Homo sapiens: one gene and its partners. The protein of the gene in region 1 interacts with the protein of each later gene in a pairwise test. Each region holds a gene or a part of one and is shown on either strand. Other genes may lie near its edges. The genes, in order: PTPN23, PDCD6, PSMA3 and GRAP2.

Evidence for each region.
Region 2: the proteins of PTPN23 (region 1) and PDCD6 interact in binary tests that used the Homo sapiens proteins (3 or more experiments, as listed by UniProt).
Region 3: the proteins of PTPN23 (region 1) and PSMA3 interact in binary tests that used the Homo sapiens proteins (3 or more experiments, as listed by UniProt).
Region 4: the proteins of PTPN23 (region 1) and GRAP2 interact in binary tests that used the Homo sapiens proteins (3 or more experiments, as listed by UniProt).

Annotation. Positions count from the first base shown.
Region 1 is NC_000003.12:47,376,366-47,384,031, reverse strand, and holds the start of PTPN23 (tyrosine-protein phosphatase non-receptor type 23), read right to left. Parts: upstream 3,012-7,666; 5' UTR 2,936-3,011; coding exon 2,852-2,935; exon of another isoform or gene 2,540-2,851; intron 1-2,539. UniProt on the Homo sapiens protein: Plays a role in sorting of endocytic ubiquitinated cargos into multivesicular bodies (MVBs) via its interaction with the ESCRT-I complex (endosomal sorting complex required for transport I), and possibly also other ESCRT complexes.
Region 2 is NC_000005.10:274,640-281,663, forward strand, and holds part of PDCD6 (programmed cell death protein 6), read left to right. Parts: intron 1-1,372; exon of another isoform or gene 1,373-2,301; intron 2,302-7,024. UniProt on the Homo sapiens protein: Calcium sensor that plays a key role in processes such as endoplasmic reticulum (ER)-Golgi vesicular transport, endosomal biogenesis or membrane repair.
Region 3 is NC_000014.9:58,261,835-58,268,858, reverse strand, and holds part of PSMA3 (proteasome subunit alpha type-3), read right to left. Parts: intron 5,155-7,024; coding exon 5,089-5,154; intron 3,495-5,088; exon of another isoform or gene 1,466-3,494; intron 1,386-1,465; coding exon 1,339-1,385; intron 1-1,338. UniProt on the Homo sapiens protein: Component of the 20S core proteasome complex involved in the proteolytic degradation of most intracellular proteins. This complex plays numerous essential roles within the cell by associating with different regulatory particles.
Region 4 is NC_000022.11:39,953,063-39,960,086, reverse strand, and holds part of GRAP2 (GRB2-related adapter protein 2), read right to left. Parts: intron 4,269-7,024; coding exon 4,177-4,268; intron 33-4,176; coding exon 1-32. UniProt on the Homo sapiens protein: Interacts with SLP-76 to regulate NF-AT activation. Binds to tyrosine-phosphorylated shc.

The DNA of each region.
Region 1 (7,666 bases):
TCTATTCTAAATTAAATTCTAACCCTCAGCTCCAATTCACTGGCAGAGGTTCCCACAGCTCAGAGCAAGCATAAAGCAGGACAAGGGTGCCAGTGGCAGAAGGCAGAGAAGGGGCTCTGCAGTTGGGGAAGGGGGTGCAGGTTGGGAAGAGTCCCCAGGCTGCAGTGGTGTCTGCACAGTCTCCTCCAGTGTCTATAGGAGTAATTGTTTCATATCTGATACCACCTCGGGCTAAAGGGCTAATGAGCAACTCCTCTCCTGGAGGCCCAGGTGCATGGAGGGAAGTCACTGGTCACACAATACCCTTTGGGTCGGTGTGAATCGTCAGAGCAGCAAAGGCTAAGTTCAAACAAAAATACTTCCTAGGAGTTTCTGGGCCAAGATTTTATCTACTGCATTCCCATATATTTATGGTCACCATCTCTAAATTTCCGCTCAGCTGTAATTCAATCATTTGAGAAATATTTTTCTGACTGCCAACTATGTAGAGGGTACACTGTTAGGCTCTGGGGAACACAGAGATGCTTCTCAGGTAACACACACTTGAACAGGGGGGTTAAAACACAGCATACATAACTGTCACCAGGGAAAGGATGAAAAGAGTTAAGGAATTAAGAGAAGAGAAAGATTAATCCAGGTAGAAAGATTAAGAAAGGCTCTGCAGAAAGGAGAGCTTAAGTAGACCTTGAAAGTTGGATGGGAGACAAGAAAATGGAATTCACGGAGATTGAAGAAGGGCACCTCACCACCCCACAGGGCAAAATGAGACCTCTTCTAGGCAGGAGGAATTCCATGACCAACGGCACAGAAGAGGAAACAGAGTATGGTAAGGAAACAGCAAGTGACTGAGAACAGAATCTAGGGTACCTCTATCAGATGCACACAGTAGATGAAGCACACAGTGGGGACTCAATAAATGCTGAAAGAAGTGGGATAAGTCTGGAAGAACTCTAATGGAAAACTAAAGATACTGGCTCTATTCCAAGACTCCGTCTCCAAAAAAAAGATACCGGATCTATTCTGTAAAACAGAAAACAGGAGTTTTGGCCAGGCGCGGTGGCTCATGCCTATAATCCCAGCACTTTGGGAGGCCAAGGTGGGTGGATCACGGGTCGGGAGATCGAGACTATCCTGGCTAACACGATGAAACCCCCTCTCCACTAAAAATACAAAAAATTAGGCAGGGGTGGTGGCGGGTGCCTGTAGTCCCAGCTACTTGGGAGGCTGAGGCAGGAGAATGGCGTGAACCCGGGAGGCGGAGCTTGCAGTGAGCTGAGATTGCGCCACTGCACTCCAGCCTGGGTGACAGAGTGAGACTCCGTCTCAAAAAAAAAAAAAAAAAAAAAAAAAAGAAAAGAAAAAGAAAACAGGAGTTCTGTTGTGTCTTAGAAAAATTCATCCAATTGTATTTGTATGAAACAGCAGATGAAGGCCTGTAATCCCAGCACTTTGGGAGGCCGAGGCAAGCGGATCACCTGATGTCAGGAGTTCGAGACCAGTCTGACCAACATGGCAAAACCCCATCTCTAATAAAAATACAAAATTAGCCGGGCATGGTGGCGCATGCCTGTAATTCCAGCTACTTGGAAGGCTGAGGCAGGAGAATCGCTTAAACCCGGGAGGCTGACGTTGCGGTGAGCCGAGATCGTGCCATTGCACTCCAGCCTGGGCAACAAGAGCGAAACTCCGTCTCAAAAAAAAAAAAAAAGGTAGGAAAAAGAAACAGCAGATGAAGAAGAGAGCAACGTCTGGATAACCGTTAACAAAATTCTAGAATTTTGGATCAATTACCCTCATTTCCTGGCCCCAAGAGGCTAGATGATGGACTCAAACACTGTCTGAACTAAGGCAATGGTGTATGGCGATTAGAGGGGAGACAGCTTCTTGGGAAACTACTTCCAAACCCATTTTCTTTTTCCTATTTGTCTTCCCAAGCGTCTCGCTAAGTGGTGCACCATCTAGATTGGGGCTTACTCTGGCATCTGCTGTGCTAAGCCCACAAGGCCCCCCACCTGCGACGGCCTCCTGGTTGTTCCTTTTCATTTCTGCTCTAGCCCTCAGTGCTACCAATACAGCGGATGTCTCGGAGGGCACCTGTGTTCAATCACCACACCTGAACCTCTCCACAGAAGTTCCTTGCCTTAGTCAACGCCAAACCTGCCCGTCTGTTCTTCCAACACAGTAAGATTTCTCTGAGCTCTACAACACTGTTTATGCCCTCCAGTCGGTTACGAAAAGCAGTAACCCTCCTAAAAATGTCGTGGGATTGTATTGTTTGGTCCAAAGAGACTCCCGAATGGGAGACCATACAGAATCGCAGCAATTGTAAAACAAACCCTCACCGCAGGGGTCGGGCATCTCCCTGGGCCACCGGGGCTCACGTCTTAAACACACGCCCCTGAGCCATCCCCAGTGTCTGTCCCAGGCGGGCGTGGACTTGACAGCGCACCGAGGGCCGGGCGCAGCAAAAGAATCCGCACGGTCAGGGCCGCCCACCGCTCCCGCGCGGGGCGGTCCTGGCATGGAGGAGGGGCGGGGCAGAACTGGGTCCGAGCGTCAGAAGGAGGAAGTGTGCTGCCTCAGTGGGAACAGCGGATGACTCGGGGCAGAAGTCGGGAACCGGGTTCAGATGAAGATGCAGGTGCTAGCACGGGGCTATCGGGGAGGAGAAGAATGGCCTGCGGGCGCCGGGGTGTGGGACAGGCTGAGGAAAACCGGCGAAGGCCCCTCCTGGCCTCACCGGACCCTGCGACCGGGCCTGAGGAGGTGATGGGCGCGCAGGGGGGCGTCACGCGCTTGCAGACGACGGAGATACGCGGCGGATAGGGGGGAAGATGGAAGGCAAGCTCACCTTCTTCACAGCTGGCTGGAAGTGAAAGTCACCGGCCTCCTTCAGGTCCAGCCAGATCATGGGCATGCGGGGCACGGCCTCCATGGCGGCTGGCACCCGCCGGCCACCCGGCCACTCCCGTAGCTGCTGCAGCTGCTGGCTCAGCCACGAGCCCAGCCCCGCCCCTTCGTGCCGGAAGTCACTGGTCACGGGAGGGAATGAAAAATGCCAGCGGCCTGCCGGGAGTTGCAGTGAACCCAGCCACCCGCTCGCGTAGTCTTTTGCGCAGGCGCTGTCCCTGTTGCGCATGCTCAGTCTTCTTCGCGCGGAGGGAGTAGGGCGGGGAGGAGCTCGCCAGCCCGAGGCGAAACGGCTTCTGGGATAGTAGTCTTCATCCACTAAACTGAGAGGCGCGGAGCGAGCTTATTCCCCGCTCCCGGGCCAAGCCCAGCTGCGGGTCCCGCCCGCCGCGCTCCTCCCTCCTAGGAAGAGCATGAGACCTCACCTATGAACTTGCCCTCCCACGTATTGTCAAGAGCCGTGGAGGACTGGTGCTGTGGTAGAGATGACGTGGCGGGCGGGCCGCTGGAAAGAGATGACGCGAAAACGGGCCTTAGAGAGGGTGCGGAGGGAGCACCTGGCCTGAAGGAGTCGGGGCTGAGAGCTGGGGGTTTCAGTCCCAGTGCTGCGAAGGCTTTCGAGCTTTGGAACAGAATCACTGACCGGAGACTGGCCTACTCAGCCCAGCCTGGGAGGCCGGGCAGTGCCCAAGGGAGACGGACGATAGGGAGGGAGCGCCTGGATGGAGGGTCTCAAGCGGAGTGAGGAGGCCCCGGGCCCTGTGGGGAAGTGGGTGGGGGAAGGTATACGGCCAGGTGAGCACCCAGGGACGCCCACAGTATCTGGAAGGAGACCACGGAATGGAGAGCACCTGTTGCCTCTGGAGAGGGGACCTATAGAGCAGGAATTGTTAAATCATATGGCTGTATCACCTACTTTTAGAAATAAATAATAGGCTACTCGGGAGGCTGAGGCTGGAGGTTCAATCGCTTGACCTGGGAGGCGGAGATTGCGGTGAGCCTAGATCTTGCCACTGCTCTCCAGCCTGAGCGACAGAGCGAGACTCCGTCTCAAAATAATAATAGTAACAATAGAAATAACAGAGAATGGCCTGGAGATAGTGAGTGCAAAAGTGCGAGCTGGGAGATCAGTGAGCCTTTTGTAGTCTTCCAGGAGACAGGTGATTGTGGCTTGGAGCAGAGGGAAGTAAAAAGTGAGCAAAGAAATATTTTGCCCACTTTGAGAAATATTTGAGGAATATTTTGGAGACAAAAGTATCAGAACTTGGAATGGATGGATGTAAGGGCATGAGGACGTCGAATATGATTTCCAAGCTTCTGGCTTGTGCAGGTGGGTGGCTGTGGGGCTGTTTACTGATAAGGGAAAACAAGGGAAGAGCAAAGGTTCAGGTCCGTGTTAAGCTCGAGGTCAAGGCCTTTGACTCGTTCTGGATGAAATGTGGAGACCACGATGCCGGGTGCGGTGGTTCACGCTTGTAATCCCATCACTTTGGGAGGCCGAGGCGGGCGGATCGCTTAAGCCCGGGAGTTCAAGACCAGCCTAGCCCACATGGCCAAACCCCGTCCCTACAAAAAATATAAAAATTAGCAGGACATGGTGGCTCATGTACGCCTGTAGTCCCAGCTACTCAGGAGGCTGAGGCGGGAGGAACCTTGAGCCCGGGAGGCAGAGGTTGCAGTGAGCCGTGATTGTGCCATTGTACTCCAGCCTGGGCGACAAAAGTGAAACCATGTGTTAAAAAAAAAAAAAAGAAAAGAAAAAGAAAAATTATGGAGACCGTGGGATGTGGGTGGGATCTGGGATTCTAAGACAGGCTTCACCCACAAGGTAGAGCCCAGGTCCCTTTGTTGTGAGACCTCAAACCCTTTCAAGACTTAGTCAAGGGCCTAGCTTCATTCCAGTTGGAGTTAGAGCAGAAGAAAATGAAATTACATGAATGTTCATAGCAGTACCATTTCACAGTAGCCAAAAGAGAAGCAATCCATGCAGTGATGGATGGATGCATGAATAAAGATGATGTGTGTACATACAATGGAATATTATTCAGCCTTAAAAAGGAATGAAATTCTGTTACATGCTGCAACATGAATGAACCCTGAAGACATTATGCTAAGTGAAATAAGCCAGTTGCAAAAGGACAAATACTGTATTCTGCTTATCTGAGATACCTAGTTAGTCAGAGTTATGGAGACAGAAAGTAGAATGGTGTCTGTTGGGCTAGGGGAGGGGAGAATGGAGAGTTACTGTTTAATGGCTGTATAACAATCTGAACAATTTAATGCCACTGAACTGTATGCTTGAAATTGTAAACTTTGTGGCTGGGCACGGTAGCTCACACCTGTAATTCCAGCACTTTGGGAGGCCAAGGCGAGTGGATCGCCTGATTTGGGAGTTCAAGACCAGCCTGACCAACAGGGAGAAACCCCATCTCTACTAAAAATGCAAAATTAGCCGGGCCTGATGGTGCATGCCTGTAATCCCAGCTACTCGGGAGGCTGAGGCAGGAGAATCGCTGAACCCGGGAAGCGGAGGTCGCGGTGAGCCAAGATTTGTGCCATTGCACTCCAGCCTGGGCAACAAAGAGCGAAACTCTGTCTCAAAAAAAAAAAAGAAAAATTGTAAACTTTGTTAGGTATATTTTACCACAGTTTAAAAAAAATAAAATATAAGACCTTGCAAATAATTTATTTAAAGAGAAAGAAAAATTTTGCCAGTTCTTCCAGCATCTTAGAAGAGCTTGTTTCTGGAAGACTTTTTTTTCTTTGAGACAGAGTCTTGCTCTGTTTGCCCAGGCCAGAGTGCAATGGTGTGATGTCGGCTCACTGCAGCCTTGGCCTCCTGAGCTCACTCAATTCTCCAACCTCAGCCTCCCTAGTGGCTGGAGTACAGGCGTGTGCCACCAGGCCTGGCTAATTTTTTCTTGTATTTTTTGTAGAGATGGGTTTTTGCCATGTTGCCCAGGCTGGTCTTGAACTCCTAGGCTCAAGCAATCTGCCTGTCTCAGCCTCCCAAAGTGCTGGGATTACAGACAAGAGCCACTGCGCCCAGCCTGGAAGACCATCTTGAGGTCACCTGGACAGAGATAGAGAAATTTTGGGCAAAGCTGGGCATGGTGGCTCACGCCTGTAATCCCAGCACTTTTGGAGGCCAAGGCGGGCGGATCACTTGAGGTCAGGAGTTCAAGACCAACCTGGCTAATATAGTGAAACTCCACCTCTACTAAAAATACAAAAATTAGCTGGGTGTGGTGGCGTGTGGCTGTAGTCCCAGCTACTAGGGAGGCTGAGGCAAGACAATCGCTTGAACCTGGGAGGTGGAGGTTGCAGTGAGCCAAGATTGCACGACTGCACTCCAGCCTGGGTGACAGAGCAAGACTCTGTCTCAAAACAAACACAAGAAAGAAAGTATGGGAAGGCCTACAACCTGCAAAACTGCCCGAACACAATTTGTAGTAAGTAAAATACAAAAGCATAAAGCAGCCTACCTTGGGGCTTTCTGATGGTGAGGCAGTGGTCAGCCATGAGGGAGCTGCAAGACCTAGGCACAACAGCTGAGTCCAGAGCAGGCTGGGAATTGGGAGACTACATCATAGCATTACTGAGCAAAGAAGCAGGCGGCTGCTTGGCCACAGGACACAGACAGCCCAGGACCCAAACTTGAGGCCAGCAAGGGGTCAGGATTAAGCTGTTGCAGTTCAGTATGGGCTGGAACAGGAAGTGAGAGAGGAAGGGGAGAAGTAGGAAGCCCTAAATTGGGCCTTGCAAGACAGAGAAGACCTATAGAGATGGGCATTCCAGGCAGGTGGAATTGCAGATGCAAGAGGGAGCTCTGGCGAGGCTCCAGGATTCAGGAGAGCTGGGCAGATGGGTCCCTATCTCATGAGCTTCCTACAGTGATAGCTTTGGCCCTACTGCCTTTCCTTCCCCTGGCCTCTACTCCCGAGGTGGAATGGGAACACCTTGTCCCCACATGGTGCTTCTGGAGTTGAACTACAACAAAAGAAATAAAGTATTCTGTGAGTTCCAGGGTGTATTCATTTGCTAGAGTGGCCATAGGAAAGTACCACATACTGAGTAGGTTAAGCAGAAATGTATTTCCTCACAGTTCTGGAGGCTAGAGGTCTGAGATAAGGTATTAGTAGAGTTGGTTTCTTCTGAGGCCTCTCTCTTTGGCTTGTTAATGGCCATCTTATCCCTGGGCCTGGTGACCCTGCCTTTAAACTCAGTCACATTCTGAGGTACTGGAGGTTAGGACTTCAAACATGAAATGAGGAGTAATGGAGGGGGCACATTTAGCCCATAACACAGGGTCACAGTGACATGAAGGGCAATTGGTGTGAAAGGCATCAAAGACCAAGAGGACCTTCACAGGCCTTGAATGCTGAGGGCGGGGATGGGTTGGTGGAGGTGAGACAGCAGAAAGGGTGACTCCGGGGCAGGGAGTGCCCTCCTAACATGTATTTCCAGGCAGGGTTGGGAGTTAGAAGCCTAAGACTTGATGGTCCTGGGGAAGAGTCTGCCTCATCACGAGGGGGCAGCACACCCTTTTCTCAAGACAGCCTCCCCATCACACCCAGCAGAGTTGGATGGGCCCTTAAAAACACACACACCCTTCCCCATTTTACCAATGTAGAAACCCAGGCCTGGACTGGGGAGGGGACCACCCAAAGTCTCAACAAGTGAATATACATGAGTCTGGGCTGCACTTTGGGAGGCAGAGGCAGAGGCAAACAGATCACCTGAGGTCAGGAGTTCA
Region 2 (7,024 bases), on another chromosome or scaffold:
TGGTGATGATGGTTTCCACTTACTCAACACTCACACGCTGGGCTAGGCACTTAACCCAAATCCAAGGTCAGCATTATTGTTTGGGGGTGGGGGAGACACCTCCTGCTCTGACTTGTGTGTTTGGGTTCCTGTATTTTCACCAGAGGGAGTTAGTCCTGCCCCAGTTCAGCTGGTCCTCAAAGTGTATATAGCTCTTTAACCATCAGCAAGTGTCTATCAGAACATAATCTTGATTTCAGCTGCTACTAAATATCTACCAGGAGACTGCTTGAGAGAATTGCCTGATGGGTGCTGAGTCCACCATTCCTGAGATACTTTGAAATCAGTGGCTTAACCCAAGCTGTGTATCGGGACCCTCTCACCGTGGTCCCAATGGAGTCACTTTTCTTAGGCGCCCCCCTTTACCTTGGGCTCTGAGCTTCCTCTGCCTTTCATCTCTGTGGGATGAAGCCCCACCGCCCTTCAGGATGCAAAGCCCTCTTCTCTAATGTGAGTGCAGGGCCAGGTGCAGTGGCTCACGCCTGACCTCCCAACACTTTGGGAGGCCGAGGCAGGGGGATCCCTTGAGCCCAGGAGTTTGAGACCAGCCTGGGCGACACTGTGAGACCCTGTTGCCTGAATTGCCCTGGGAGATTTCCTCAGCTTGTGCTGGGGGCATGTGGCCCCATGAAGCCCGTAGTCACTGTTCACCCTGAGAGACGCTGGCTTTCGGGCTCACACACCTGCTGCGGGGCAGCCCCAGGAAATGGCCACCCCATTTCTCCTGGAGCTGCGCGTGTTCTCAGAAACTGTGGTGGCCGTTCTGTTTTGTTTGCATCTTATAAACGTTTACCTGATGACATTTTCCTCTTCAATTTAGCTGCTAGAAAATTTAAAGTCAGGTTGGTGGCTCACCAGTAATGAGAGTTTAGAGTAGAAGTAAACTTTATGACATAGTCTTAGACTCTTCACTTTCTTCTCAACCAATATGATTCACATTTACTTTATTTTGCTGTACCGTGAGTGTCTCTGTGTTTCCTGAATTCCTTCTGGAATAAGGCAGGTTGTTAGTAAGCACAGGTTTCTGGTCCATCTCACAGCCTCAGGCAGTGGGCATTGCTGTCGGTGCTCCCTTTCCGGGTTACCTGTGGTAGCTCTCAAGTTGCAGGGCTGCGATTTGAAGCCTGATTTAGTACACCGTGTTTCTGTTGTGTTCTGTGGTGGTTTGCTCCTCACATGTGAGCATTCACCGTGGCCCTGTGTTTTTCCACCACACCTCTGCCTGGTGGCATCCTACTGGATGTCTCAGCCGAGCCACTCTGTTCTGAAGATGCCCTTGTCCTCCACCCCTTTGCTTTGGGCTCTAAGCTTCTTCTGCCTTTCATCTCTGTAGGATGAAGCCCCACCCGCCCTTCAGGATGCCAGCCTTGGCAACATTGTGAGACCCTGTTTCTACAAAAAGTAAATGAGTGTAGTGGTGCACGCCTGTATTCCCAGCTACTTGGGAGGCTGAGATGGGAAGATCACTTGAGCCTGGGAGGTTGAGGCTGCATTGAGCTGAGATCAAGCCACGGCACTCCAGCCTGGGAGACAGAGCGAAACCCCATCTCAAAAAAACAAAGAAAGTGGATGCGCGCTGCTCCTGCCATTGGATCATCGCAGCATTTTTCTTTTCTCTGATATGCACCTTTTTCCTCATCGTGGGGGCTCACGTTTTCATAGTTCCCTCTCACTACTAGGTTGTGAGCTGCGTGAAGGAAGGTTCATAGTTGTGTTGTATGTACAGGCACACAAAATTTGTCCTTGGATAAACACATATCCTCTTCCTTCTTCTCTCTGAATTTCTTTATTTTAAGAAAAAAATTAGAGATGGAGTCTCACTGTCTTGCTCAGGCTGGTCTCAAACTCCTAGGCTCAAGTGATCCTCCTGCCTCAGCCTATACTAATATGAATTCCTATACTAATATGATTGAAATTAGTTTGATTTCTATAATAATTGTGCTCCCAGATTGGGCTTCTGTTTTGATAGTAGAACTAAATTATTAGGCTATTTCAAGAAATTAATATATTACTGGTAGAAAAACTGAAGCTACAAAATGGCCTGGTTTCTCACTTCAGTTAAATTTGTGCTTCTGAGTGCTTGTATTCTAGGTGAAACCACACTGAGAAGGTATTTGTGGCCCATACACTGATTCCTTCATGAGACTTGTTTGCACAGGAGAGCTGCTAAAAATTACTGCTCTCAGGGAGGTCTGTGGTGAACAGGTATGAAGAAGAAGACTGTTCTCTGCCCTTCTTTTTGCAATAAAATGTTCCAAACTATCTTGAGTTTGATCCCTTTTCGGGTGTTTGGGGTTTTTTTAACATTCACATATTTCTTGGAATTATAAGAAATTAACTTTGTGCTTCTGAAGTAGGTTTGCCTTAATATAACACTGATGTATTTGTAAGGGGCATTTTTAAAGCTGTACTTTAAAAAATAATAATTCTTACATTCGTTTGAAGGTTTTTTTATGTGTGTTTTTGAGACAGAGGCTTGCTCTATCGCCCAGGCTGGAGTGCAGTGGCACGCTCTTGGCTCACTACAACCTCCGCATCTGGGGTTCAAGCGATTCTCCTGCCTCAGCCTCCTGAGTAGCTGGGACTACAGGTGCCCACCACCACGCCCAGCTAATTTTTTGTATTTTTTTTTTTTTTTTTTTTTTGAGGCAGAGTCTCTGTCGCCTAGGCTGGAGTGCGGTGGCACTATCTTGGCTCACTGCAAGCTCCGCCTCCTGGGTTCATGCCATTCTCCTGCCTCAGCCTCCCGAGTAGCTGGGACTACAGGCACCCGCCACCATGCCTGGCTAATTTTTTGTCTTTTTAGTAGAGACGGGGTTTCACCGTGTCAGCCAGGATGGTCTCGATCTTATGACCTCATGATCCACCCGCCTCAGCCTCCCAAAGTGCTGGGATTACAGGCGTGAGCCACCACGCCCAGCAATTTTTTGTATTTTTAGTACAGACAGGGTTTCACCATGTTAGCTAGGATGGTCTTGATCTCCTGACCTCTTGATCTGCCCACCTCAGCCTCCCAAAGTGCTGGGATTACGGGCGTGAGCCAGGGGGCCAACATGGTGAAACCCTATCTCTACTAAAAATACAAAATTAGCCGGGAATGGTGGTGCGCGCCTATAATCCCAGCTACTCGGGAGGCTGAGGCGTGAGAATCACTTGAACCTGGGAGGCAGAGGTTGCAGTGAGCTGAGATAGCGCCACTGCACTCCAGCCTGGGGGGCAGTGAGACTCCATCTCAAAAAAAAAAAAAAAAAAGAATAGAATAACCCTTGTTTAGGTGTTAACAAAATCCAGGCCAGACAAATCTAAACTTTAATCTCATACCCAGTTCCTAGATGAGTCCCTTCTCCAGCTCAGGTTCCGCCTAAGCCTCAGGGTTCCTTACTTGGTGGGCACCACCTGCTCCCTTCCCCACCTTTGTCCTCTTTTTCCTCTGCTGGCTCCTCCGGGGTTGGGTGTGTTCAGAGGCAGAGACAGGCTAAAGGTCTTTGGCTTTTAGGTTCTGTTGGTGGGTGAGTTCCAGATATAGCTTTCTCTTGTAGGATATTTCATTTATTTATCTATTAAAAATATTTATTTAGAACACACCATTCATGTGCCAGACCCTGTCCAGGCACTGGGGATAGGGTGATAAATGAGATCAACAAAAATACCTGCCCACATTAAGCTCCTGTTCTAGGGAAGACAGAAAGAAAATACACGTGTCCTTAGTATATTAGAAGATTCCAAGTACTGTAGAGAAAAATAAAGCAGGCTGGACTCGGTGGCTCATGCTTGTAATCCCAGCACTTTGGGAGGCTGAGGTGGGAGGATTACTTGAGCTCAGGAATTTGAGACCAGCCTGGGCAACATGGCAGATCCTGTCTCTCCCAAAAAAAAAAAAAAAATTTAGCTGGGTATGGTGGCGTGCATCTGTAGTCCCAGCCACTGGGGAGGCTGAGGAGGGAGAATTGCTTCAGCCTAGGAGGTGAAGGTTGCAGTAAACCGAGATCGTGCCATTGCACTCCAGCCTGGGTGACAGAGCCAGACCCTGTCTCAAATAAAACAAAAGGAAAGAAAGAAAATGAAAAAAAGAAAGAGATGGGGCAAGCAGGGGAGAGGGCTGGGGACACAGGGGAGGGTGCTGGGGATGCAGGGGAGGGTGCTGGGGACACAGGAGGGTGCTGGGGATGCGGGGGAGGGTGCTGGGGACACGGGAGGGGCTGGGGACATGGGAGGGGCTAGGGATGCAAGCTTTCCTGAGTTCCCACAGTTCTCTGCCCCTCTCCTGTCTCACGGGGTGTGGGCCACCTGTGGCTTGCGGTTGTTTCGCGCCAAGCTAATATCTTGTTCTTCCCAACAGAGAGGCCCGTTGAGGCTTCTCTGTCCTCCATGGGGAACAGCATTGGCCTAAACCTGCAGACACCATTGCAAAGGGAAGTCAGCTCAGGCAAACCCGCTGGTGAAGAAGAATTCCAGTGTGGGGACACAGAGACTGACATTTCTTGCCATGGGTGATTTAATTTTGGGCCTCAGTTTTTCATTCCCCCCTAAGAGTATGACGCAGCCGCATCCTTGCCAGGGCCGGAGGGAGGGTGGATGGACTTATAGGTGTTGCTTGTGGCTGGGTGACTTGCTTCTGCCAACGAGATTTTCACAGACACGGCACAAGCAGAAGCCTGGAATGTGTGGCACTGCCAGGCCTGCCCTCTTAGGCTCTTGATTTTCCCCACGAGATATGCGTGCCCCAGGGAACGGCGGCTCTGGCTGTGGAATGAGAGGCGTGTGGAGCAGGCATGGTTCCCACCCTCAGCCTAGAGTCAAGGCCAGACTAGATCAGCCTAAGCCCAGCCACGCCACGGGTGCAGCAGTGAAGAGCAAATGCCAACTGTCCATGACAGTGACTTTCAAAGGGGCGTGTCATGTGCCTCATCCCAGCAACAGGGAAGGCATTTCTCTATCAGTCAGTTGGTAAATGATTATTGACAATGTGTGGGAAGGTGGAGTTATTTGAGTAGATTTGGCCTCTATTCTCATGGAGCTTCCTTTCTAGAGGGGAAGGCAGATGATGGATGAATAAATATAAATGATTCTAATAGGTTGGTGCAGCAGTCATTAAAAGTAATGGCAAAAAAAAAAAAAAAAAAAAAAACGAGGAGCCGGTGCTGCAGTTCATTAATAGTAATGGCAAAAACTGCGATGACTTGTGCGCCAACCTAACCCAGTAATCACGGGTGTGCAAAATGTGGCGATGGGCAAGTTCCGAGTGCTAGGAGAGCATCTAGCTTCCCGGAGTCAGGAGACGGGGGTTGGCAACCTAACCAAGGTTAAGTCCAAGGGAGGGGGGTGGGCAGGGAGCGATATTTCAGTGGAGACTCCAAGGACGAATGGTATTTAGAGAGTAAACCCCGATAGAGAGGGTTTGTGTCTGGCACAGAGAAGAGCCTGTGCAAAAGCCAGCGGGGCGAGAGGACACCATGTGTTCATCCACCTGAGGGGCGACCAGCAGGCTGGAGCTCAGCGGGTTGAGAGGAGGATGCAGAGCCCGGGAAAGGCACCCTAGGCAGAGGGCACAGCAGGGCAAAGGCCTGGAGTCAGGCCTGAGCCTGTGTGGTTTGAGGAACGGATAGAGGCCTGTCCGGCAGGAAGGGAACAGCACAGGGGAGAGACCTTAGGCCAGAGCAGAGGGCAGGGCTGTGCTGGGCACTGTGGGCTGTGGATGGTGCTGGCATTTAAGAGGGGAGACCATAGACCAGGGCAGAGGGCAGGGCTGTGCCGGGCACTGTGGGCTGTGGATGGTGCTGGAATTTAAGAGGGGAGACCATAGACCGAAGTAGAGGGCAGGGCTGTGCTGGGCACTGTGGGCTGTGGATGGGAGCTGGCATTTAAGAGGGGAGACCATAAGCCAGGGCAGAGGGGTGGGGAGGGCTGGGCCAGGCACCAGAGTGGAGACCACAGGCCAGGGCAGAGGGCAGGGCTGTGAGGGCACTGTAGGCTGTGGATGGGAGCTGGCATTTAAGAGGGGAGTCCATAGACCAGGGCAGAGGGCAGGGCTGTGAGGGCACTGTAGGCTGTGGATGGGAGCTGGCATTTAAGAGGGGAGTCCATAGACCAGGGCAGAGGGCAGGGCCGTGCTGGGCACTTTGGGCTGTGGATGGGAGCTGGCATTTAAGAGGGGAGACCATAGACCAGGGTAGAGGGCAGGGCCGTGCTGGGCACTTTGGGCTGTGGATGGGAGCTGGCATTTATGCTCAAGTGATGGGAATATGTTAAAAGATTTTAAGGAGGGGAGTAACAGTTGGGATTAATGTGTATTCTGGGAATCTCAACAAAGTAAATTCATAGTTCGAATTTTCATAAGACTTCTGCACAGGCAGAGAGAAATAAGATCGCATCTACAGCTGTGTGGTGATTTTCTTTAAAAATACTACTAAGTTTTTAAACGTGATTTCAAATGGTGTGTTTCTGTTTCACATTGGACATAAGTAGATTGCAAGGCTAATGGAAAGTAGAAAAGTTAACTCATGAACATAAAAGAGACATCGATTTGAAAACAAAACATTTATTCATTTACTTCTGCTGCAGTTTTCTTGACTGCTGAATTTCGTAAGAAGGGATTGGTCAGGGAGGGTCTTGGGGCTGAAGACCTGGAGAGGAGCTGGTGCTATCGCTGTTCAAATCTGAAGGTGGTGGAGATGGAGCCTTGGGGAGGAGCCGGTGCTGCCTTTTAAGTCTATGAGAGTCGTTGAGCTGGAGGTCCAGGGAAGAGCTGGTGCTGCCACTGATGTCTTAGGTTGTGGAGCTGAAGACAGTGAAGGAGCTGGTTTGGCTGTTCTGTGAGGGTCGTGGAGCTGGAGATCCAGGTGGGAGAGGTGTTCTAGTTTGAGGGTCATGCAGATGGAGATCTGTGAGGAGCTGATGTTATTTTAATTGGTGGGTCGTAGAGCTGGAGACCAGGGAGGAACTGGTGTGGTTCTAGTTTGAGGGTTGTGGAGCTGGAGACACAGGG
Region 3 (7,024 bases), on another chromosome or scaffold:
TCTAAAACCTTGCTATAATATGAGAGGATCTTGATTTTCTACAACTAAGTAAAAGATAACATGCTGCTCCATTTTCTTAAATGATGAAGGGATGGCTTTCCTAACATGGAACACTTAACAGATGACTACCATTATACCTAAATATAAAAGATGGTAAGAACTGATTTCCAGAAGGACTTCAAAGGATTGGTTCGGTGAAGGAAACAGAGTATATCATGATAACATACTATACAATTCAAGGAAGATATCTGACTTCCTTTCTTAGCAGCTCTGCTGCATGTTGGTTCCTAGTGTTGCCATTATTAACTGACAATCATAGAATGGCTTCTGCTTGCTTCACAACTGAAACTAGGAGGGCGGAGGGGAGGAGGTGGCAAGAGGGGTAAAGGCAGTAGCAGTAATGATGGACCGGTTAATAAGAGACTCTGAGTGTGATGTAAATAGTATGTTTATTAAACAATAGAGCCCATTGGAATTTTTTTCTTCCACGTATTGTTAGATGTAAAACCTGATACACTACCATACAGACAGGTGATTGACTAGACCTTGTTTATGTAGTTCTAATGTGGAATACTTAGAGTTGTTATGAATTACGATTATCCATAACTTTTGAATCTAAAAAGCTGGCTACACAACGTATTTTGTTGGAATCTTTTTGTAATACCAAATGTCTACACTCTTTGATCTAGAGAATCACAAAATTTTAGAAACATCACTACCCAGGTTAATTGACTTTTTTATTGTTTACTGTCCAAATACCTGTTACATATTAATAGTATTCTACTTTATATACCTGTAATAAACTATTCAGGGTTTCTTAAGCTGGTTGTTGAAATGTTTTGTAATACTGCTCTTCTTACCTTGTTATAGGAACTTTTATAATAAACCTGAAAAAGTGAAACATATCTTTCCCAAATAAATAGCAGATTATATAAATGAGCCAGCTTCATGGATCATGTATTGAAATAATTAGTTGTAACCTATAAAGTTTGTAAGCATTCTTACAATAGAGGCAATCTTAAGATTACTATTATTAGGACTTAAGAGATTTGAGAAGTTGGGAGCTAACAAATTAAGACCCTAATGGTATATGTCCTTAACCTGTAACAGGAGTTTATTTTGTCAAGCTATTTTTCCCATCCTATTCATTACTACTAAAAAATATTGCTTAAAAACATTTTCTTCCTTCGTGAGGCTTCTTAGAATGTTAAATTTACCTTCTAAAAATTATACACTAAGTTATTTTACAGGAAAACAGCTTCTTAGGATTAATGTAATATATATATGCAAAGGTCAAATGAAATATTTTTGTGGATGGTAAGAAAAATTTCAACTTACATTTTTGCAACTTCTTTAACGATATCACGGCAGGTCATTTCTTTCATCTATAGAAAATAAAATGTATACTGTTCATCAGAAGAACATTTTCCACTTGTGTAATAACTATTTTCACTTTTATACTCAGATATAAAACCAAGGAAAATAACCTAAAGTCTGAAAAAGACCAGAATCGAAGTTTCCTGATTCATATTTTAATGTTTTGAAATTTATACTCCAGGCTGGGTGCAGTGGCTTGTGCCTGTAATCCCAGCACTTTGGGAGGCCGAGGCGGCCGGATTGCCTGAAGTCAGAAGTTCGAGACCAGCCTGACCAACATGGTGAAACCCTGTCTCTACTTAAAAATACAAAAGAGCTGGGCATGGAGGTGGTGCGCGCCTGTAACCCTAGCTACTCGGGAGGCTGAGGCCTAAGAATCTCTTGAACCCAGGAGGCAGAGGTTGTAGTGAGCCGGGATCACGCCACTGCACTCTAGCCTGGGCGACAGAGAGAGAGACTGTCTAAAAAAGGAAAAGAAAAAAATTTATACGCCAAAAAAGATATTCTGAGATAACCTGTAGTTACCACTAACTTTGTGACAAAATTATAAAAATCCACAGCCATCTATGAATCTGTAGGCAGACCTGAAGTTTGAACGACTGGTGAAGACATCTGATTTTCTTTATAGCCAAGTTAGGATAACAAAATGCAAACAAGTCATTAATATTTACTATATGCAAGATACAGAAAGATGAAGGAAGGAGTAAGAAGTTATCCTTCGTGGAACTATTCAAAGCAAAAATGCAAAATACCAGGGAAAGCTTTGAAGAACCAAGATTTGAGCAGGTTCTTAGAATATAGATTGGATTGGATTTGATTTCAAGAAAGATGAACGTGTAAAGCAGAAGTGGGAAGCCAAAAACTTTTTTCCAAATTAGAATTAAGCATTCTTTCAATGAACATTTGGAAATCAAGGTAGAAAAATATCCCTAGGGCCTAGCTGAGGAGTCTGTATGTTGTTGGGTTTTGATAGTAACCAGTCCAAGATTTTGTTATTAGACGTGGGTTTCTGAATAGACAGGCATTTCTGAACAGACATGACAGGATCAAAACAATGTTTGAGCAAACTGCCCTTCATCTACTGTGGATATGTTGGGGGATGATGGAATATAGTGAAAGATAATGGGTGCTCATACAGCAGTCTAGACTTAAGGTGATTCAACTACTATATATTAAACTAGATTATCTTTTATTTTTTAATTTTGAAATCTGGATGCTCAAGCTCTGCCTGCACAACCACATGAGGAAGAAGGAACAATGACAACAAAAATAACACTAAATTTAAATTTAAGAGTACTACTTTTAGGAAATAGACAAACCATTATTTGGGTACAACTAAAGGCAACTGGCATGGACTCAAATATTTTGGGGAAGAAAAAGACTAAAAGTTCTAAGGAAGAAAATGCGAACCTTGATAGTTTGAAATAGTTAAAAAGACAGTGTAGAAACTGCTTAGGCAGTTTGATTATGGACTATTAGATGATACTTGGGTCTGATAATGGTATAAGGAGAATAAAGTATTTAGGGATCCAATATTACGCCTGCAGCTTTTTCCAAATAGTTCATGGGGGAGGGGGATGTGTAAGTGGTTAACTGAAGTCTAACTAGATAGGTTTGTTGTAAGCTTAGGATGTTTACAGTTCTTCATGTTAAGTTGAGCGTGATGGGAAGGGAAAGAATGCTGATCTTTAAATTTTTGTCCTTAGTTAAGTTCTGTATTTAGTGAATTAATTGCATCCTAAAAAGTCAAACTTGAAAAGCACATTTTAAATGGCAAATCTATTTTTTACATGTTTGTGAAGTTTTTATTTTTTAGTAAACAGACCATCAGAAGAGAACAATGGTACAGAGCAGGGGTCAGCAGATGGATTTTGTAAAGCATCAACTTGTAAATATTTTCAAGTTTATTAGCTGTATGGCTCTGGTTTCTGTTCCCTGTTCCAAATGTTAAAGTCTACTGTTGTATTCTAAAAGCAGCCATGGACTGAATGTAGCTGTGTTCCAATAAAACTTACACAAAAGCAGGCAGTGGGCCATAATTTGCAACACCTGATTCACAGCATAATTTTGTCACAAACTGAAAGTGTTCCTCAATTAAAGTGATTTTTTTTTCTTGATTTTTCTCTGGGATTTATTGTTTTTCCCATTCCTTGCTAGGATTTAACTACAGAAAGACAGATAGTAACTGCTCTAAATATTCTAATTTCCTTTATTTTTTTGAGATAAGGTGTCGCTCTGTTGCCCTGGCTGGAGTGCAGTGGCGTGATCATAGCTCACTGTAGCCCCCAACTCCTGGCTGGGGCTCAAACAGTCCTCCTGCCTCAGCCTCCCAAGTAGCTGGGACTACAGGCACGCACCACCTCACCTCGCTAACATTTTGTTTTGGGAGATAGGGTCTTACTCTTTTGCCCAGCCTGGTCTTGGAACTACTGGGCTCAAGCAGTCCTCCCAACTTGGCCTACCAAACTGGTAGGATTACAGGGGTAATCCCCCTCAACTGACATAAATATTCTAATTTTCAAATTTCCATATAATAGTATGGAGAGATGAAAACAAAAGGAAAAGAGTAGAAGATAGGAACCTAGCATCATACTAGTAAGTGTGCAATGGAAAAGAACATAGGTCTAAGACTCATAAGGTCTGGATACTGTTCAGAACCAGCTGATTCTGTGGTCCTATGCAGTGTGTTTAATCTGCAGTTGAGCTTGGGCTAAATGACCTCTAAGATCCTTTTGTCAGCTTTACTAAAATACGAAACAAATTAGGTTTTATAGGGGGTTCTAGAACTTAGCATTGTATAAATGCCAAGCACTAATAAGTATTTTCTAGAAGCTGGTCTTAAATAAGTTGAATGAGTAATTAGTTGAGCAGGGTTCTAGTACAGCATTAACATTAAATGTATGTGAAATTGTATCTCACTTCAGTTTACCAAAACACTGATAAATGGTATGCCTGCTTTTTAGGCAAGTTTCTGACAGGTAATCAATAATATTGAAACAGTATCCATGAAGTCTTTAAGTTGATCAACGCATGGCTAAAAGGAAAACCAAGTTTTTAAGAAAACTTTTTCACACTAATAGCTGAATTTTGTGAAAGAAAAAGTGGGTAGTCGTAAGAGTGTAGGCTTTATGCCTTACCTGGCTAGGAGCAAAGCTAAGAGAACCGGTGGAGCACAGCCAGACATAAAAGCTGTGTTCCAAAGAAAGAATATAGGAAAAATATAACTTTTTATTAACTCAAAATTTTAAACAAAATTTTCAAACTAGAGCTCACAGAGATTCATAAATAGGTTTCAAGGATTTTGTGAAATCATATCAAAAGTTGTGTTTTTCTAGATTGAGGCTTTATAGCAGTTATTCAGAATCTATAAAGGGATGTATAACACAACTCTACAGATAATATGTTACCAGCTTTCCCATTCAGTGACTTAGCAGCTTCATAAACTCTCAACATCAAACCACACTATATCCTTACACCGAGCTTCCCCAGCCACAGGCCACATGGGGCCAAACACAAATTCGTAAACTTTCTTAACACATGATGAGATTTTTTTTTAAGCTCATCAGCTATCATTAGTGTTGGTGTATTTTATGTGTGGCCCAGGGAAGCCAAATGATTGGACATCCCTGCCTTAGACTGAAATGTCTGTGGTGATAAAATTTCACTGCATTAGGATGACGACATAGTAAAAATTCAAGCATTAATTATTACCTGAAGCTTCTCTATTTCCGTCTTTGCAGCTTGCCTGGCTTTGCCGATGGCACAGCCCCAATAACCCTATTTAGAAAAAAATATATATAATCACTGAATTAGTACACTATCATATGTAATTAATGACTACTAATGTTTCTATAACCTAGTGAAAGGATGCTAAATGACTTTTAAAAGCAAGTATAGAAAAATATAGTCAAACACATTCTGATGAATGCCAAAGGGCTCAAAAATACTAAAATACCAAACAATTCCAAAACAACCTGTATTTTTAATAAAGGTATATCCAAAAATATGTAAATTATGTAATCATATACACTTTAAGACATTTTGGGGAACAGGAACGGAAAAGATTTTAGCACTATGACAATGAAAAATGAAATTATATATTCCTGAGAGACAGAAATAAAGTTAATTCCTATGAGTTCAGTACTCTAAACCCCCAATTTTATTATTTTGTAAATTTTTTTAAAGATAAGGATGCACAGCTGGGTGTGGTGGGTCATGCCTGTAATCCCAGCACTATGGAAGGCCAAGGTGGGCAGATCACCTCAGGTCAGGAGTTGGAGACCGGCCTGGCCAACATTGTAAAACCCTGTCTCTACTAAAAATACAAAAAAATTAGCTAGGTGTGGTGGCAGGTGCCTGTAATGCCAGCTACTCCAGAGGCTGAGGCAGGAGAATCGCTTGAATCTGGGAGGCAGAGGTTGCAGTGAGCTGAGACCGCGCCACTGCACTCCAGCCTGGGCAACAGAGTGAGACTCCATCAAAAAAAAAAAAAAAAAGGATGTACACATATATACTTCTGTTACAGCAAAATATATTTAAGAATCTTCATTTTCTTCAATTAGTAAAAACGACAAAAATGTAAGGATAAGAAAACAGTTAAGAAACGGTAACAGGCCGGGTGCAGTGGCTCACACAAAGTGCTTGTAATCCCAGCACTTTGGGAATCTGAGGCACGTGGATCACTTGAGGCCAGGAGTTCCAGACCAGCCTGGGCAACATGGTGAAAGTCTGTCTCTACTAAAAATACAAAAATTAGCCAGGTGTGATGGTACAGGCCTGTAATCCCAGCTACTTGAGAGGCTGAGGCACAAGAATCCCTTGAATCCGGGAGGCAGAGGTTACAGTGAGCCAAGATTGCACCACTGCAGTCCAGCCTGGGCAACTGAGCAAGACTCTGTCTCAAAAAAAAAAAAAAATGGTAATAATTTAGGGAAAGCTCTTAGAAATCACATTTAAACCTTCTCTTTAAAAGGGAAGGCAGGGCAAGGTGGCTCACACCTATAATCCCAGCATTTTGGGAGACCAAGGTGGGCGGATTACTTGAGATCAGGAGTTCGAGACCAGCCTGGCTAACATGGTGAAACCTCGTCTCTACTGAAAATACAAAAATTAGCCGGGTGTGGTGATGCATGCTTCTAATCCCAGCCTACTCGGGAGGCTGAGGCAGAATTGCTTGAACTGGGGAGGTGGAGGTTTGGCGCCACTGCACTCCAGTCTGGGTGACAGAGCGAGACGCTGTCTGAAACAAAATTAGGTCCGGCACTGTGGCTCACGCCTGTAATCCTTGCACTTTGGCAGGCCGGGGTGGGCAGACCACCTGAGGTCAGGAGTTGGAGACCAGCTGGCCAACATGGCAAAACCCCATCTGTACTAAAAATACAAAAATTAACCAGGCATGGTAGTACATGCCTGTAATCCCAGCTAATCAGGAGGCTGAGACAGGAGAATTGCTTGAACCTAGGAGGCGGAAGAGGTTGCAGTGAACCAAGATCGAGCCACTGCACTCCAGCCTGGGAGACAGAGTGACACTCCATCTTATAAATAAATAAAATAAAAGGGATGACATGGCTGGACATCGATGCTCACGCCTGTAGTCCCAGCATTTTGGGAGTCCAAGGCAGGAGGACTGCTTAAGGCCAGGAGTTTG
Region 4 (7,024 bases), on another chromosome or scaffold:
CCTGGTGTCGAGAGAGGCCTTCGTGAAACCATCTGTGGGGGCGAGATCAAACAAAAGGATCAGGATGAGACACAGGAGTGACAAGAGGGAGACGTGGAGAAGAGGTGACCCAGAGGGAAAGAGGCTGGGGACTCTGTACAGTAGGGAGCAGAGAGAGACCAGGTGCTGTTTGAAATCAAACCAGTGCTCCAGGCAGCTTTCAGGAAAGGCGAGGGAGCATTCCCCTTGATTCACCCTCTTTGTTCCTTCTCTCCAGGAGAAGTCTCTCTCCAGCCTGGGAAACGAATCATGGAAATGTGTCGCTGCACCAAAATGGGGCAGTGTGGGAGTGACTCACTGCAGGAAGCAGCCGCCTGCCGGCAGCTGCGGAAGAGATAGACCAGAGCTGCGAGGACAGAGGATGCACTGGGGAGGGAAGGGAAGGCTTCAGGCACTGGAGCCAACCAGGTGCAGCCGGCTGAGCAGGGCCTGGGGTGCTCATGCCTGCCCTGAGGTCTCAGTGGCCTAGAGGTTCCTCCCTGGGTATTAAAGGAAAGTTACAGCCCAGGGCGTCACGTTACCTAGGCTGGCATGGAGCACAAGGGGGCTTTGCTCAGTGTGCCTAGCAGAGGCTGCAGTGTTCCTAGGGAGTCCAGTGTACATGCTTGGAAATCAGCGAGGCTGGCAGCCGCCAGAGAGCGGCGTCTATACAACCAGATCCTGGGCCTGCCCCAAAAATCCAGGCTGGGAAATAATCTTTACTGTGGAAAAGAAGAAACAGGAGAAATTACTCTTTTAGCAGAATGGTCAGGGTGGCAGCCCCTGGAGGTACAGCTGCATACAGCGTGGCATGTATGAAATAGGTCAAACACTTACACAGGGCCAGGCAAGCTGTGGCTGCAGCCTCAAAGCAGGAGGCCAGAGACCTCTCTCCACCACAGACAAGCAAAATGAGTGTCTGCAATCACTCAGCGGCCAAAGGTGGGACTGTGTCACATTGCTTCAAGGTGGCTGCTCTAATTGCTGTCACCAGAAGGCTCATACGCATGTTCCTTTAAGATAAAAGCCCGTCAGGCCTTGGCTTTGGATTCCTTTGTGAGCAATTCTCTGTGCTTTCTAGAATTTGGGAAACTGAGACATAGGTAGCAGGAAGGATGTACTTACTGGAGACTGAGTCCCCCACTGGGACTGAGGGGGAAGTTTGGCTGTGCTCTGAGAGGGCTGAAAGCAGCAGTTTCTGGTGGCCTGGAGATTCTGCCTGAGTATTTGCCACACAATTCTACAGGGCTAAACAAGAGGCCACCACACACACCACTGCCACGTGTGGGAAATGTAATGGGGATGGGAAGAGGAATGGAGTATGCACCACAGCAGCCATATCGCAAAGGAAACATTTCAGAAGTGAAGGGGATTTAGGAAATACACATTTGTCCTCTGACTGCAATCTGATAGGGGGCTTCTTTAAAGATTTGTAAAAATCACCACACATTGCATATTAGACATGAGTGGTCATGGTTTCAATAATACATATTCGTTCGTTCATTCATTCATTCATTCATTCAACAGCTTTACTGAACATCTAGTACTGTGCTGGGCCCCTCCTGGGCACTGGGGACACAGTAGTGGGCAGAACAGACACACACCCCTGCCCTCAGGGAGCTTACATTCTAGTCGAGGGGGACACACACAAAAGAACAAAATAATTAAGATCTGAAGCGTGCCAGATGATGGTAAGTGCTGTGGAGAACATGAAAACTGAGAGGAGAGATGGGGCGCTGTGGGTGGGAGATTAATGTAAGGTATGGTGATGAGAAAGACCTCACTGAAAAGGAGACATTCTAAACCTATAGGGGACTGGGGAGTGGGAGGAACCAACACAAGAGACTGAGGAGGAGAAGCCAGGGCAGTGGGAGGACAACCGGAGGAAGGACGTCCTGGAGCCAAAATGAAAGAGGTGTTCCAGTGGGAGGGGGGATCCCCAGGGCAGGTCATGCTGAGATGACCCCTGGGAGCTACAGCCCATGGGGAGCCTGGTGGGAAGGGTCGGGAGATGAGGAGTTGGAAGTAGCAAATGCACACACTCCTTTTGAAGAGATGGAGTGGCAAGTGGAAGGGGATTTGGGATTAAGAATTTTCTTGATTTATTTATTTATTTAAATTTTTTTTTTCTTTGAAACAGAGTCTCTCTCTGCTGCCCAGGCTGGAGTGCAGTGATATAATCATGGTCCACCACAGCCTTGAACTCCCAGGCTCAAGCGATCCTCCTGCCTCAGCCTCCCAAGCAGCTGGGACTATAGGCGCATGCCACCACGACCAGCTAATTTTTAAAAATTTTTTGTAGAGATGGGGCTCGCTATGTTGCCCAGGCTGGTCTCAAACTCCTAGCCACAAGTGATCCTCCTCCCTCAGCCTCTCAAAGGACTGGGATTACAGGCATCAGCCACAACAAAACCCACCTGGCCTCTGGGTTTGGTTTTGTTTGTTTGTGTTTTGGTAAGTTGGGAGAAATTGCAGCGTGTGTGTTTGCTGACAGGAATGATCCAGCAGAGAGGGAAAGGAGGTTGACGTGGAAGAGAGAGAGAGGAGAATTTCTGCTAGAAGCAGTGACAGTTCCTTCCAGCCAGCTGCAGGAAAGGCCGACTGTTTGAGCACACTTGCAGGAGGCAGGTGGATGCGGTGGGGGAGGGGGGTCTGGGAGCTTCACTTCTGGTGGCTTTCATTGTTCCAGAGAACCTGGAATCAAGGTCACGGGCTAAGAGTGATGCACGGAGGGGCTGAAGGTTTGAGGAGCACGTGGGGTATGCAGAGGTCACCTAGCAGATTCCTGGGCAGCATCAAGGGTTCCGTCAAGGTCAGTGGTCATTCTCTTGGTTTGGTGGTCAGTTCAGGTTTACCAAGACTGGTGCTCTTGCACCTTGCTGGAGTCACCAATACTACTGTGGTTTTCTAACAAGCTTTTGCTCTTTGAGCTAGACCCTGGTTCTGAGGCAAGATTAGATTTCTATCTAACCCTTGTGGTCAATTCTTGAGACAAACGAAGCCCAATCTCAATTTTTCATTTCCTCTTTAGGAAGAGAATTTCCCCTTCCCCCCGCTGACTTCTCTCATTGGGGTGAGCATGCTTTACTGAAGGCAGGGAGTGTCTGTCCACCCACTGAGTGAAGGGTGAGAGCCTGGTGAGGATGGTTAGGATTAGGAGGTCACAGAGAAGCGCTTAGGAGAGCAGCTCCCGAAGTGGGGTGGCCAATAGCGTCCCCTTTGGAATTCTGGGGAACGCCGTGATTGAAATCACTATAGATAATTTGAGTTTACAAACTCATTTTATAAAAACTTAAAATAGGCCGGGTGCAGTGGCTCACACCTGTAATCCCAGCACTTTGGGAGGCCGAGGCGGGTGGATCACCTGAGGTCAAGAGTTTGAGACCAGCCTGTCCATCATGGTGAAACCCCATCTCTACTAAAAATACAAAAGTTAGCTGGGTGTGGTGGCATGCACCTGTAATCCCAGCTACTAGGGAGGCTGAGGCAGGAGAATTGCAATGAGCCGAGATCATGCCACTGCACTCCAGCCTGGGCAACAGAGCAAGGTTCTGTCTCAAAACAAATAAACACATGAATAAAAAAACCCAAAAAAACCCAAAACTTAAAATAGGCCAGGCATGGTGGTTCACGCCTGTAATCCCAGCACTTTGGGAGGCTGAGGCGGCAGATCACTTGAGGTCAGGAGTTTGGGACCAGCCTGGCCAACATGGTAAAACCCTGTCTCTACTAAAAATACAAAAACTAGCCTGGCGTGGTGGCATGTGCCTGTAATCCCAGCTACTTGGGAGGCTGAGGTGAGAGGATGGCTTGAGCCCAGGAGTTTTAGGCTGCAGTGAGTGGTGATGGAGTCACCGCACTCCAGCCTGGGTGACAGAGGGAGACCCCAACTCCCAAAAAAAAAAAAAAAAAGTTAAGAACAACTTAAAATAGCAATACATGCACATGGTGTAAACATCAAAAGGGAATGAAATGAAATGCAAAGTCTCCCTCCTGCCCTGGCCTTCAGCTGCATGCTCTGGAGGCTCTCCGGAGAGAGCTCCAGAGGCAGCCATTTTTGACAATGTCTTGGGTTCCCATGGATAACTGTAGTGACTGCTGGAAATGTAAGAGGAGTGTGTGTGGCTAGGCCCATCTCAGCAGGCTGCAGATACTTACTTGGGAAACTGGATGTCTATGAAATTCTTGGGCACATATCCTTCCTGGCTCCCAAGCTCCGCCTTAAACCACTCCTCTTGGTTACTTAAAATCTACATGGAAGAAAAGGAAAGACAAAGACATTGGAGGGAGGACACCAAAAAAACAAGAGAAAGGGGCTGCCAGGCAAAGAAGGCCCTTTTGGACTTAGAGGAAAATATGTTAATAAGTTGAAAGAACTCAACAGCTGTTCTAGGATTTACCCCAGGCCTGTGGAGGAGCCGTGGGTTTACCTTTGGAGTCAGCTTCTCCTGACCCCAGGTTATTTCTGTCCACTTGTGCCGTCCACTCATGTCACCCCACTGTGGCTTGGCCTCCCAAATTCAGCACTCAAGGACTTCCCTGAATCCCTTTTTCTATTTTGGAAATTCATTTGTCCCAGTTAGCACCTTAAGTTCCTCATCTCAGCAGATGGTGAGAAGGAAGAATGGTTACTCCACGGTGTATTTTTTTTTTTCTCTTCCAGGTAACCAGGAAACTTTTCTCTTTTTTTTGTTGTTGTTTTTCGTTTTTTTGAGACAGAGTCTTGCTCTGTCGCCAGGCTGGAGTGCAGTGGCGGGATCTCAGCTCACTGCAACCTCCACCTCCTGGGTTCAAGCGATCCCCCTGCCTCAGCCTCCTGAGTAGCTGGGATTACAGGCATGCGCCACTACACCTGGCTAATTTTTCATATTTTTAGGAGAGACGGGGTTTTACCATATTGGCCGGGACTGTCTTGATCCTTTGACCTAGTGATCCACCTGCCTTGGCCTCCCAAAGTGCTGGGATTACAGGCGTGAGCCACCAGGCCCAGGAAACTTTTCAAAAATTCAATTTGTTATTGTTTTTTAAACAGGCAGATTAAAACTTAAACATCCCAGTGGGGCCAGCTTTGGAAACAGTAACTCTTTGTGTTCACATGCTGTGTATTTCACAGATATTTGGCTGGAACCCAAGATACTTGGGATGCCTTTTCTAAACTTGCTTTTAAAGCCAGATCCCAAACAAAACCAAAAGTTCTGTCTTGTTACTCTGTGGCCTGACTTTGACTGTGACCCCAAATGTTATTGTCTACCTCAGTTACTCATATTACTCACCAGACTTGACTGTATGTGGCTTCTGGTTTCTCAAAAAATGAGATTCACCATTAAAAGACAAAATATTTGACACCGCCACTGAGAATGTTTTGAAAGTCTGAGGCCAGGTGTGGTGGCTCGCGCCTGTAATCCCAGCACTTTGAGAGGCCAAGGCACATAGATCACTTGAGGCCAGGAGTTCGAGACCAGCCTGTCCATCATGGTGAAATGCCATCTCTACTAAAAATACAAAAAGGAGCCGGGCCTGGTGGCACATGCCTGTAATCCCAGCTACTCGGGAGGCTGAGGCAGGAGAATTGCTTGAACCCAGGAGGCAAGGTTGCAGTGAACCGTGATCTTGCCACTGGACTCCAGCCTGGGCAACAGAGCAAGCCTCTCTCAAAAAAAAAATTTTTTTTAAGTCTTTGATATAGACTAGAACAATAATTCTAAATAAGGATAGCAGAGCAAAAGATGGAAAGAACTCTGATAATGTCACTGAACCGCTGAATTAGATGATACCCAGGAGCCTTCCTACTTCTGGACTTTGAGAAATTACAAGTCTTTGTTATTGTTTAAGCCATTTTTAGTTTATGTTTCTTGCTCCTGAAAATATCTTAACTGATAGAAGTGTGATGATAAAGAAGAAAGCAGAAATAGATAGAAAAGGCATCCATATGTAGAGGAGAGACCACTTGCCTTGGCAACGAAAGGAGTTACTGAGGCCAAGTCAGATGGCAATGGACTTCCTCCTTCAGCTCTGAGGAGGTGTGGTGTGTTCTGGGAATGAAATGCCTCCAGGTGGCTGGAATGTAGACTGTGAATATCTTGAAATGTAGGGGGAGCCCTTAAAGGATTTTGAGCAGGGAAGTAACAGTAAGAATTAGAGTTCAGAAAGAGCTCTGGCTGGGTGCGATGGCTCATGCCTGTAATCCCAGCACTTTGGGAGGCCCAAGTGGACGATCGCTTGAGCCCAGGAGTTTGAGACCAGCCTGGGCAACAAAGCGAGACCTTGTCTCTATGAAAATAAAAATAAAACTTAGCAAGGCGTGGTGGAAGCGCACCTGTAGTCCCAGCTACTCAGGAGGCTGAAGCGGGAGGAGGGTGTGAGCCCAGGAGTTAAAGGCTGTAGTGAGCTCTGATTGTACCACTGTACTACAGCCTGGACAACAGAGAGAGACTCTGTCTCTAATTAAGAGAGAGCGAGAGAGCGACAGAGCTCTGTATCAGAGATCAGAATGTGAAGATAGATTGCAAGGCTAAAGTCGGCAGAAAAACTGCAGGAAGATGAGCGCAGGCCTCCAGTCAAGAGATGATAGGGCCTAGGCTAAGAGGAGGTGAGGATATATTTTAGAGAAATTCAGGAAGCAAACAGGCAGGATTTCTTGACCAATCTTGGAAGCTAAGGGAGAGGAGGACTCTGGGATGCCACTGGATTTCTGGCTTGGGAGACTGAGTAGGTGGTGACGGCTTTACAGAAATAGAAGATACATGAGAGGAGGCAGGGCTGAGAAAGGGCTCATGGGCTTCAGATTGCATGCGGGTGACTGTGAGTTGAATTCTTCAACTAAGAAGAAAAGCTCAGGGAGCAGCTGGATATGTCAGTCTGGACCCAGGAGAGAGGCTAAGGTTGGGGCTTGGGGTTTCAGAGTCATCAGAAAGTGGGTGGAGTTGAAGTCACAGGGCCCTTGGGCTTCTTTCTCCCAGAAAAGAAGATGGGAAGATAATGGAAAGAACTAAGTGCTTGAGTGGAG